Regions from separate parts of the Homo sapiens genome. Here region 2 is linked to region 1. The links come from fine-mapping of genetic effects on gene expression. A gene starts in region 1. The other region holds a variant in brackets. All regions are shown on one strand. Distances are between the middles of the regions. Region 1 holds the start of PDLIM7 (PDZ and LIM domain 7). Region 2 overlaps FAM193B (family with sequence similarity 193 member B).

What was found. PIP is the estimated chance that this variant, and not a neighbour inherited with it, causes the effect. A credible set is the group of variants that fine-mapping cannot tell apart.
Region 2: its variant is the best candidate, but not a certain one, in a credible set for the expression of PDLIM7 in monocytes (BLUEPRINT, PIP 0.51).

Annotation. Positions count from the first base shown.
Region 1 is chr5:177,495,108-177,500,469 of GRCh38, forward strand. PDLIM7 (PDZ and LIM domain 7) reads right to left here and starts at 2,497. Exons shown (of 13, transcript NM_005451.5): 1 at 2,421-2,497; 2 at 1,310-1,416. The coding sequence starts at 1,405. RefSeq lists enhancers at 1,149-1,890, 3,103-3,152, 3,371-4,110 and silencers at 1,693-1,772, 2,183-2,892.
Region 2 is chr5:177,523,161-177,528,522 of GRCh38, forward strand. It overlaps FAM193B (family with sequence similarity 193 member B), which reads right to left. Exons shown (of 9, transcript NM_001190946.3): 6 at 1,025-2,045; 7 at 797-872. Among named protein-coding and RNA genes, the nearest start is that of DDX41, 8.9 kb to the left of the region's middle. The variant G/A (reference allele first, on the strand shown) is at 2,479.

The DNA of each region.
Region 1 (5,362 bases):
GCCAGCACTTTCCCAGGGAGCAGGACGTCAGGTAGGTTTCAGGGCTGTGTGAGGGCTATGTAGTGGGACGTGTGTCATAGGGCAACCACTGCCTCACTACCCTGCTGGCGGGGCAGGTTCCAGGAGAATGCCATCAAAGGACCCCTGAGAAGAGCACTGCTGGCCTGCCCACCCTAACCCCCACGCCCAGCTCCTACAGACAGACTCCAGCTTGAGCCCCTCCTCAGGCCACGACCCTCTGGGCCCCTCCAGGCTGGGCTTGCCTTGGGCTTCCTGACAACAGCTGCCTGCCCACCCGGCGCCTGGGTGGGTCTCTTGGGGCAGGCGGATATAGGGGCAGGAAGTCCCCACCCCCTCCTGACCCCCAGGCCAGTCAGAGATGCCAGCCGACAGGCTGGCCTCACCCACTCTGGGCAGGCAATTTGTTGTGTCTCACAACTGGACCATATAGCTGGAGCTGCAGCCTGGTGACCAGCTGAGAGGCCCACCAGTGGGGTTCAGGGGGCCAGGCCTAGGCCAGCCCTTTTCAGCTCTGCAGACCGCAGCCACTGTTGGCCATCCCAGCGTGGGGCTGCATTCTTGGGCTTATAAGGCAATCCCCCTGCTACAGGGAGGAGCCAGCCTCCAGCTCCACCCACACCAGGGCAGGCTCTTGGAAGCTGAAGTTAAGCCCCTAGAATGGAGCCCTGTCCTACACTTCTGCTTGGGGTCAAAGGCCACCACATCCTGAATGGGAACAGTGGATGTGGGTCCTTACATAGGCTGGGGAGAGACCCCTTCTACCCACAAAAAATGTACGCCATGCTGTGCCTCAATTCCAATCCCTGCTTCACCATGGACTCGATGAGCGAGCCCCGCCACCTCTCCATGAGTTCTTCTCTCATCTGGAAAAACGGGATGAGGATTGCTATTCCCTGGGCGGCAGTGAGGCTGAAGTGAAATCCTATAGTCACAGTGTCCTGCCTGGGGCCTGGCTCCAAGCATTGCCACCTCAAGTTTAGATACCTCCTGAAATGTTAGGCTCCCATCCTGCACAATGAGCCTCCCTCCAGCCCTCAGAGGTGGCCACAGGAGCTTGGGAGAACAGCATCGGGTACAGTGCAGGGCTGGAGAAGCCTGGGTGCTCCCTCCCAGTATCCACCTCATTGGGAGTCCTTGTGGCAGGCAGGTACCACTACATCTCCGGACCTAGACATCTCCTGGCCTGCTGGCCCCTGACCAGCTCCTGTTAGGACTCCCCCCATCACCCTCTGGAGACCTAAGCACCGAAAGACCGCTGGGGGAGCCCCCTCCCCAAACCTAGGCTCACCCGGGAAATGGAGAGGGGCACATTGAAGTCCTTGCCCCCTTGCAGCCGGAAGCCCCAAGGTGCTGGCCCCTCCAGCACTACTTTGAAGGAATCCATGATGCCGGCTCCTGAGAGGAGAGAAGAGAAGGTGAGTGGCCAGCATGGTGGGCGGGCAGGCAGGCAGGCCGGGCCAGCTCAGGATACCAGCCTTGGACAGGGGCCAGGCAGGCACGGGCAGCCCCTGAGCACGCCCAAGCCATAGGAGGCAGGTATTTTGTCAGGCTGGCCTGGGCTGCTGGCTGGCGGACCTCACTTTGGAAAGACAGGAGCAGCCCCCCTCCCCTTGGGACTGGAACGGTGAGGGGTGCCTGAATCCAGGCTTGAGGTTCTTTGCAACCAGGGGTGGGCCGAGGGACTAAACTGGCGCGGCCTCCCCCCAAGCCAGCCTGGAGCCTCGGGCGGCCGGGTGAGTCAGGGGCCGGCTCTCCTCTCCCCCGCCCCCAGGTCCCGGCAGGCAGGCCGCGGCTGGAGCCTGCTCGGACTATATAAGGCGTGTAAGCTGACACTGTGCGGAGAGCCAGCGGAGGGAGCACACGGGGGCTTGGGACGCGAGGGGGGGGGGAGGGGAGGGGAGGGGAGGGGAGGGGAGGGAGGCGGCTGCAGCGGATCCTCCTAGCCATTCCGGGACCAGTCGAGGCTGCTGGGAGCCAGGGCGGGACCCCTGGGTGCTGAAGAAGGGGAAGGCGGGAGTGGGGTGCGGCCCCTGTGGAGACAGATGGGGGCTGGGACCCTCAAGCATAGCTTGGAGGGGGATCCTTCCCCGAGCCCAGTGGGGGGTGGTGCCTCCCACACAGAACTGCTCCCACACCGACGTGACTCAGTTTCCCCTTAGTCCCCCGCCCGGGCCCCATGCATTAGACTGGCCCCGGCCGCAGGAAGCGGCGCAGGCGCCAATCGGCCCCGCCGCAGCCGGCTTAGCGGCAGGAAGGCGGGGGCGGGGGCGGAGGCAGGGGCCAGGGCCAGCGGGAGGAAGCACAGCCTGGACCACGACCCCCAGTGCCCTTTGTGGTCCTCAGCAGGCCCCGGGCGCCCGCCTGGTGCAGCCCAAGACGCCCCGCGCGGTCGTCGATACCTGCTTGGCCCGGCCAGGGCGCTGCTCTGCGTCGGGCTCCAGGGAGCCTCGTTGGGATCGGCCGCCAGTGTTCTGACCCCGCCCCCACAGCCACCCTCCACTTTGAGCGCGCGGACGGGGGCGGGGCACCAGGCCACGCCCTCGTCGCGACCACGCCCACTAGACTTTCTCCGCTGGTGGAAAGCCCCACCCAGCTCTTCCGTCCTGCCCAATCACCAAGTCCCGTCGGGCTTAGAGCTGAGAGGCCTCGCCGACCCGGGCCCTGCAACGGGGCGGAGTCGGGAGGGGGCCGGGGCTGCGGGTCGCCTCCTTAGGGAAGCGCTGCCTCGCCCAGTCCCTCGCACCGCCCGCTGGCGGAGGGAGAGGAAAGCGGACCTTCAAACCAGACCGACCTGGGACATAGTAGTCTCTGAACCTTAGTTTGCTACTCCGAAAAATGGGACGATCATACTCGCCTCGCAGGGCTGCCGCGAGTGTCGGTATCGTAGGCGCAACCCTCGGGGACTGCAGAATCTGTAAATCAGAGGGGCTGGGGGAGACAAGTTGAGGGGGACAGGGGCGTTTAAAGCTAGAGTTGCGCAACGCTCTGCCGAAGGCAGGAAAACAGGGCAGGAGCGGACGCCGGATGTCCCTGCAACCCCGAGCCGACCCGCGCACCGTCGGAAGCGCCGCGTCCCGCTCCACCTTGGCCAGAGCGGACTGCGCCGCCTGGGAGGCGTCCTCAGAGTCCCGGCCCCGCGTTCAGCCCAGGCACTAGGGCCGGCGGCACGGACACTGAGCACATGCGGGTGTCGGGGTGAGGGAAGGGGCGTCCACCCTCCACTCGCTTGGTGGTCCCGGCCCATCACCTCCTCCTAGGACAGAGTCGCTGCAGTTCTCCCCTCTCCATCCACAGTCATCACACCCACCCTGTTCTGCACAAACCGCCGTGAGAGTTCTCGTCGTTAAAGACCTTCTCTTGACCCCACATCCCTCTCCAGCTACTACCCTTTAATTCTCCTCTCGAGAGTAAAATTCCTCCAGGGAGTTGTCTGTTTATCGCGTCTCCACTTGCTTTCCTTCAGTTATCTCTTGAAGCCATGCCAGGCGGGCTCTTGTCCGCACCCGTCCCCTGAGATCTCTCTTCTCAAGGTCCCCTGTGGCCTGGAGGCCATGGGGCCATGGAATCCGTGGTGGTTAAGTTTCATCCTGCCCTGCCTAGGGGCAGCACTGGTCCAGGTTGATCCTTTTCCGCGAAACACCCTTTTTCCCTGGCTTCACAGCTTCCCCCTGCCCCACTGGCCCCTCCTTCCCATCCTCCTCTGCCTCTGGCCTTGGCCATCTGATGTCGCCTCTCTTTATGCTCACCCCCTGAGACCCCGTACTGTCCTGTGGCTTTCAACACCACCTATATGCAAAGGCATCCCATGTTTCATGGCCAGCCTGACCTCTCCCCAGGAACTCTAACTCCATTATCCAAAACCCTGCCTAGATGTTTACTAGATCAGGGGTCCCCAACTCCCCGTTTGTGGCCTGTTAGGAACTGGGCTGCACAGCAGAAGGTGAGCAGCGGCAAGCCAGAGAAGCTGAGTGCAGCGGCAGCATTAGACTCCCATAGGAGCGTGAACCCTATTGTGAACTGTGCATGCGAGGGATCTAGGTTGCTCATTCCTTATGAGAATCTAATGATAAATGGGCCGGGTGCAGTGGTTCACGCCTGTAACCCCAGCACTTTGGGAGGTTGAGGCGGGGGAGGATCACTTGAGGTCAGGAGTTCGAGACCATCCTGGCCAATATGGTGAAACCCCGTCTCTACTAAAAATACAAAAATTAGCTGGGCGTGGTGGCGCATATGCCTATAATCCCAGCTACTTGAGAGGCTGAGGCAGGAGAATGACTTGAACCTGGGCAGCAGAGGTTGTAGTGAGCCAAGATGGCTCCACTGCACTCCAGTGTGGGTGACAGAGCGAGACTCTATCTCAAAAAAAAAAAAAAAAAAAGAGTCTAATGATAAATGTACTGCACTCGAACCACCCTGAAACCATCCCCACCCCACCCCCAGTCTGTGGAAAAATTGTCTTCCATGAAAGCGGTCCCTTCTGCCAAAAAGGTTGGGGAACCACTGTACTAGGTATCTCAGACCATCATGGCCCAATTCAAACTTGTGCCTTTCCCACCTTCCTAACTCCTTCCTCACTTCAAGAAGTGCCACCAACATTTATCCAACTGGTTCAGCAGAAACGATGAAGTTATCCTTTCTCTTCTGTCCTCCCCCAGATTCTGCAAATTCCACCTTCAACATGTTCACATCTAACCGCTGCTGCCACCATTGTCCCAGCCACTGCCATTTTGTGCCTGCGCCCCTGTAACGGTCTCCTAACGGGCATCCCTGCTTTCACCCTTGCCCCTTCCAGAGTCTTCACGAAGCAGCCAAAGTGATATTTTTAAAGCCAGAATCACAGCACCATGTCACTCTCAGCTTTTAGCATTCCAGTGGGCTCATATTGCACTCAAAATAAAACTGAAGTCCTTAAGACCTACAGAATATGAATAAACTGGGTCTGACTCCTACCACTCGCTCCCTCCACTCCAGCCACCCTGACCTCCTCACTCACATTTCCTCCAGCAGGCCAAGCATATTTCTGCCTCAGGGCCTCTCCACTTGCCAGTTCCCCTGCTTGAAACACTTTTCTTTTTTTTTCTTTTTTCTTTTCTTTTTTTTTTTTGAGACGGAGTCTCGCTCTGTCATCCAGGCTGGAGTGCAGTGGTGTGATCTCGGCTTGCTGCAACCTCTGCCTCCCACGTTCAAGTGATTCTCCTGCCTCAACCTCCCGAGTAGCTGGGACTACAGGCATGAACCACCATGCCCGGATAATTTTTATATGTTTAGTAGAGATGGGGTTTCTCCATGTTGGTCAGGCTGCTCTCAAACTCCTGACCTCCAGCGATCCACCTGCCTTGGC
Region 2 (5,362 bases), 28 kb after region 1:
GCCTTATTTTTCTATTTTTAGTAGAGACGGGGTTTCACCAACTTGGCCAGGCTGGTCTTGAACTCCTGATCTCAGGTGATCCACCCGCCTCGGCCTCCCAAAGTGCTAGGATGAGAAGCATGAGCCACCGCGCTTGGCCAAAAATACTAATTTTTAAAAAATTTGCATTATTTAGTAATGTATTGCTATTTTTTGTGTTTTGTTTTTTTTCCTGAATATTTTTGATTGCAGATATGGAGGGTGACTGTATGCCGTGTTTCTTTCACCCTAATCTTTTGTACTCACTGGCCCCCTTGGCATGAATACCTTTTCATCTTATCTGGCCAACTCATTCTTACTCTTCAGGTTTCAACTTGGTTACCACCTCTCCTGGGAAGGCCTCCTGGCCAGCCCCCACCCCTTCTATCCTCCCCAACTCTATGCCATTTATCAGTAGGCTGCATGTTCATGGCCAGACTCCTGGTCTAGACTGCTTCATTGACCTCAGCCCAGGCAAAGCAGAGAATGTGCAAGTGAAGACACAAAGCAAATAAAGCTGGAAAAAGCCCTGGTTCTTGGGGCCTGACATGCCTCCTCCTATCTCTTGCACCTTCCCAGATGTGCCATCCTGCCCAGTGGCTCCGTGGGTTTTCAGCAGGCAGGCTGGTGGGAGAGGGCCTGGGGGGGCGGTGAGCCTCCCCAAGGGGTCAGGGCCAAGGGAGCAGGCCTTTCTGAGGCTTGAGGCACAACACAGGGCTTGAGTGTGGGCAGGACCTGGAGTCCTCCACAAGTGGGAGAGCAGGCAGCCCACACCTACCTCTTAAAGTACTCCACCTCTCGGTCAGTCTCATCCATCTCCACCCCGTCCATGTCCTTGGGCAGGAACACATCGTCTAGGAAGACACAGCCAGGAGGGCTCAGTGCCCATGGCCAGGCCTTTGGGGTTATGCTCTGGGGGCAGCGCTGTCTACACACAAAGGCTGCCCCTCCACCCCGTGGACTGGCTGGGGTAGGGGGTCAGCCGCTCAGTTCCTGGTGCACTCACCCAAGGAGGAGGCTGGCTTCTCCTGCTTGTTGCGGCTCCGGCGGCTGCGGCCCTTGCCCTGGGGCAAGCTCTGTGGCCTTGCTGGGCCTGAGGGCTGCACAGACTCCTGCTCCTGAGGCCGTGCCTTGGCCTCGCCTGGCCAGTTTCGCCAGGAGCTGCCCTTCTCCTTCTCAGTTTTGGGACTGCCAGCCCAACCTGGTCCTGGCCGGCTCCCCCGGCTCCCCTCTCCAGCCTCAGCACAGCTGCCTACTTTGGGAAGCTCTAGGACCCTGCCTGGCTGCTTGGGGCCAGCGACCTGGCCCTTGGCACTGGGAACCTCTAGGCTGGCTGGGGGCCGGGGGGCTGGGCTTGCCTCGCTCTTCTTGGCCTGACTGCCCTGCCTCTTGCCCTTCTGTGGCTTCCCACCTGAGGACACAGGCTCAGGCAGCTCCTGCTTGCAACTGGGAACTTCCTTTGAGCTTGGCTCCTCGGAGCTGGGGTAGCCCGGCTTGGGTGTCTTGACCCAGATCACCCGGGATAGGTTGGGCACGGTGTTGAGTCTCCTCACGAGCCCGTTCTCGGGGACGATACCGGGAGGGGGCCCCCTCACCTCTGTCCATGGTGGGTGGGGGCCTCTCATTTCTGCCCATGGTGGGGCTGGCTCGCCTGGAGCTTGTAACGTGTGGTTCTGAGGGGAGCCCAAAGTCAAAGGGGACAGGTCAAGGTTGATGTCAGGCTGCTGCTCTGAGGAGCCACTGAGGTTTGAGGGGGGTAGACTCTGAGGCTCAGGCTCAGCAGCCCCCTCCTTAGAGAAGCCATTGCTGTCCATGCTGAGCTCACACACACTGAAGCTGGCACGGATGGAGTCTTTGACAGTGTTTTTGATCTCCTGCAGACGGCTGCTCAGGAAGCTGTTGACCCGATCCAGTTCCCGGTCGGGCCACTCCAAGAGCCTCTCCCTGGCAGGCCTTGGCTCCCGGCTTCCAGAAACACGATTTGCCTGCTTTAGAGCTTCTGCTGCCAACTGGGCCTTCTCCTTTTCCTGCCAAGGCAAGAGGCAGTTTTAGCAGGAGGCTGTCAACTGCCAGGCACAATGTGATACCTGACCCATCAGCCTGGGGCCCAGCTTTGCCACTAACTTGCTGGAAGCAAAGCCTTAAAATCCTAGCCTGCTTACCCACCCTGCAGGAGTGAGGGCAAACTGCAGCCAGACAGGTACATGTCCTGGGGGCAGGGGTAGTCACACCCACAGAGGGTAGGGTTTTTACAGCTTGTTCACCCAGAGCCTCAGTTTCAGTGGACTAATCTGCAAAATGGGGACAATAATTCCGGAGTAAAGCCAAAGTGGGGATGCATGTGAAGACCACTACTAGAGAGGCATTCTCTCCACCCCTACGGGTGGTGGGGAAAAAGCCATGCCATCACGGGGTCTTACAGGAGGCAGGTGTGGGGGTAGATGAGATTACTCTGGTTGG[G/A]AGGGCATGTGCCTTCCTGATGCTATGTCTGGGTGTTACCAAAGAGGGCGGTGTTCCCGTAGAGAGGCCACTTGCTGCACATTTGGTCTCAAGTAATCAAGGTCACACCTAGAGTGTGCCCAATGGCATACCATGGACAAACACACTGGCCTACACAGCAAGATGTGAGAGCTGCTCCTTTGCCCAGGTGAGGCCTGGAAGGCTCAGAGAGGCCAGGCCCTGCCAGTTGGCTTTGACAGATCTGGATCTAGGGAATCAAAATGAAAGTCTGTGGGATCTCAGTCACCCCAACCTCTCCATCCCACCTCAAGGCCAACGATGCCTTTAGAGGGAGACAGGCGGCAGATAAAAAACCCTCGGGAAGGAGGTTGCTGTGGTGCGCCTGGCGCCATTGACTCCCACTGCCTCCTGTACTTCCAGCTGATTTGGGAATGGAGGAAGAGAAACATGAAAGGGCAGCTGGTGAGAGAAACCAGGGCTTGCTACCACCTCGGAGTCAATGTACAGAGGGTGACCCTGCGTCCCAGCAGGCACTTATCTTTTGTGAACCCTGGCTCCACAATGGACTACAGTCAATTGTTCTGTGGGACCTTGGACAAATCACTTATTCTCTCTGAACCTTACTTTTCCTATTTGTAAATTAGGAAGAAGAGGCATCTCTACATTCCAGGGTCAGTATGAGGACAGCTGAGAGTCTGTGTGGGGTCCTTTCCCATGTGCGAAGGTGGGGCTGGGCTTCGTGGCCCTCAGGGAGCAGCTTGGTCTGCAGCAGCTGCAGCAGCATTTCTAGCTGTGAGTAGGGCTCAGAGGCCCTGGGTTGGACCAACGAGGACCAAGGGCCCTTCACCTCGCTCCCCCAGCACCACACAGATTTCACAGAAAAGTTTGGCTGCTAAAAAAAAAAAAGTTTGACAACTGCTGGTGTGGAGGGAATGATATGGAACCATATACACTCTGGAAGCCAGAGGAGAAAGCACAGAAACACACACTTTCTGCTCTGTACCGTCAGCACTTCCCATAGATGTCTCCTTTAATCCTCGCCACTGTCTTTGCTGCATCATGACCCTCTGCTTATAGGTGAGAAACCTCGACTTTGGAAAGAACAGGAGGAGGAGGTGGCTAGGAAGTGGCAGAGCCAGGACAATACACCCAGGCCTGATCTTCAGAAGTTCCTATGTTTCTCAATTCCATCTGACAACCATTTACCGACCATTGAGGCTGTGAGGCAGCAGGCCAGGCCCTGTGAGTTTAGCGTACGTGAGACATTCTCTGCCTCGCTGACTTCAGTCTGCTGAGGGAGACAACAGCAAACAGCCTGTTGAATTCAGAGTGACAGTGACAAGTGCTGCATGGAAGAAAGCACGGGGTGATCTGGGAATCTAGAGGAGATGCTCCCAACACAGACTGGTTCACCAGGGAGTGCTTCCTGGAGGTGGGAGGATCTGCACTGAGCACAGAATGGGGAGTGGAATCATCCCGGAGGCAGTGAGACAAGCATTTTCTAGAGAGAAGGAATAGCAAGTGGAAAGGCTGGAAATGGGAAAGCTCAGTATCTTCTGGGAATGCAAATCATTCAGAGGTATAGCTGTAGCCCAGATTTTTTGGGGGATGTGGGGGTTGGGTGGGGCAGGTGGGCAGGAAGGTCAGAAAGGAGAGGCTGAGAGATAAAGCTGGCAGGGGCTGATCGTGAAGGGCCCTGCAGGCCCTACAGTGTTTGTGCCCGAGGGCAATGTCCAGCCACTGATGGCTTTTAAGGTAGTGGCAGTAGGGTGGAGAGCGGTGGACTGGTCTGAGCTATCAGCGATGTGGCATGGATAGGGCTTTTGGTGCTGGGTAGGGAGACAGAATGAGAAAAGTCAGAGAAACATTGATGGCCACTATGGCTGCCACAGCAGCCCCACTGCCTGAGAACTCACATGTGCCAGGCACTCTGCCTAACCTTTCCATGCATCGCTCCATTTCATCCCTGCAACAATCTACGACTTAGGTTCTGTTATTCTCATTTTATGGATGAAGAAACTGAGGCTTAGAGGTTAAGTGATTTGCCCAATGTCATACAGCAAGTGTGGCAGAGCCAAGTGTCAAACTGAGATCCAGTTCCAGGCATGCTATTCCAGGTCACTATGATGCACTCCCCAGGCGGGCGCCCAGTGCTCCGGCTCAGGCAACAGGGTGGGAGGCGGTGCCATTGACTAGACAGACAACAGAGAAGGGAAAGCAGGCCTGTTCGGAGAAAGACAACAAGCTGAACTTTGGATGTGCAGAGTCTGAGATACCTGTGGGACGTCCACAAGGAGGTGTCCAGTAGCAGTTGGAGACGTGGATGTACAGGGTGGGGAGGAAACACTATTGGGCTGTTTCTAGATGGCATCTCTTTCCCAGGGAGATGTCCCCATGAAGGAGGGTCAAGTGGAGGACGAGGAGCTCACAAAGGAGACAGAAAGGACGTCAGAGGGGCAGGCAAGACATCTGGAGAACATGGCACTCCCCTTGCCCTTTCCTGCCTGGCTGAGGACAGAGGAGCCCAAAGACAATGTGTGAAAAGGACAAACACAAATGCCAGATATTCTCTAGTGGACTAACACGATAGGAACAGCAGAGGAGGATGGATTTGGCAACAAAAAAGTCACCGGTGACTCTGGAGAGGGTGTGGGTAGAAAACCGCCTGCAATGAGCTAATGGGTGGAAGGGAAGACAGTGAATGCAGACATCATTTTTCAAGAAGTGTGGCTGTGATGAGAGGAAAGAGGCTGGGGAGGGGTTGAGAGAGAGGTAACAGGCTCAAGGAGCAGTTTGCTTCCAAAAAAGAGAATGGTGGACACAATGAAATGTGGACGGGAACAGCATGGAGGAGAGGCTAAGCTAGACCAGGAGCCTGCTGCTG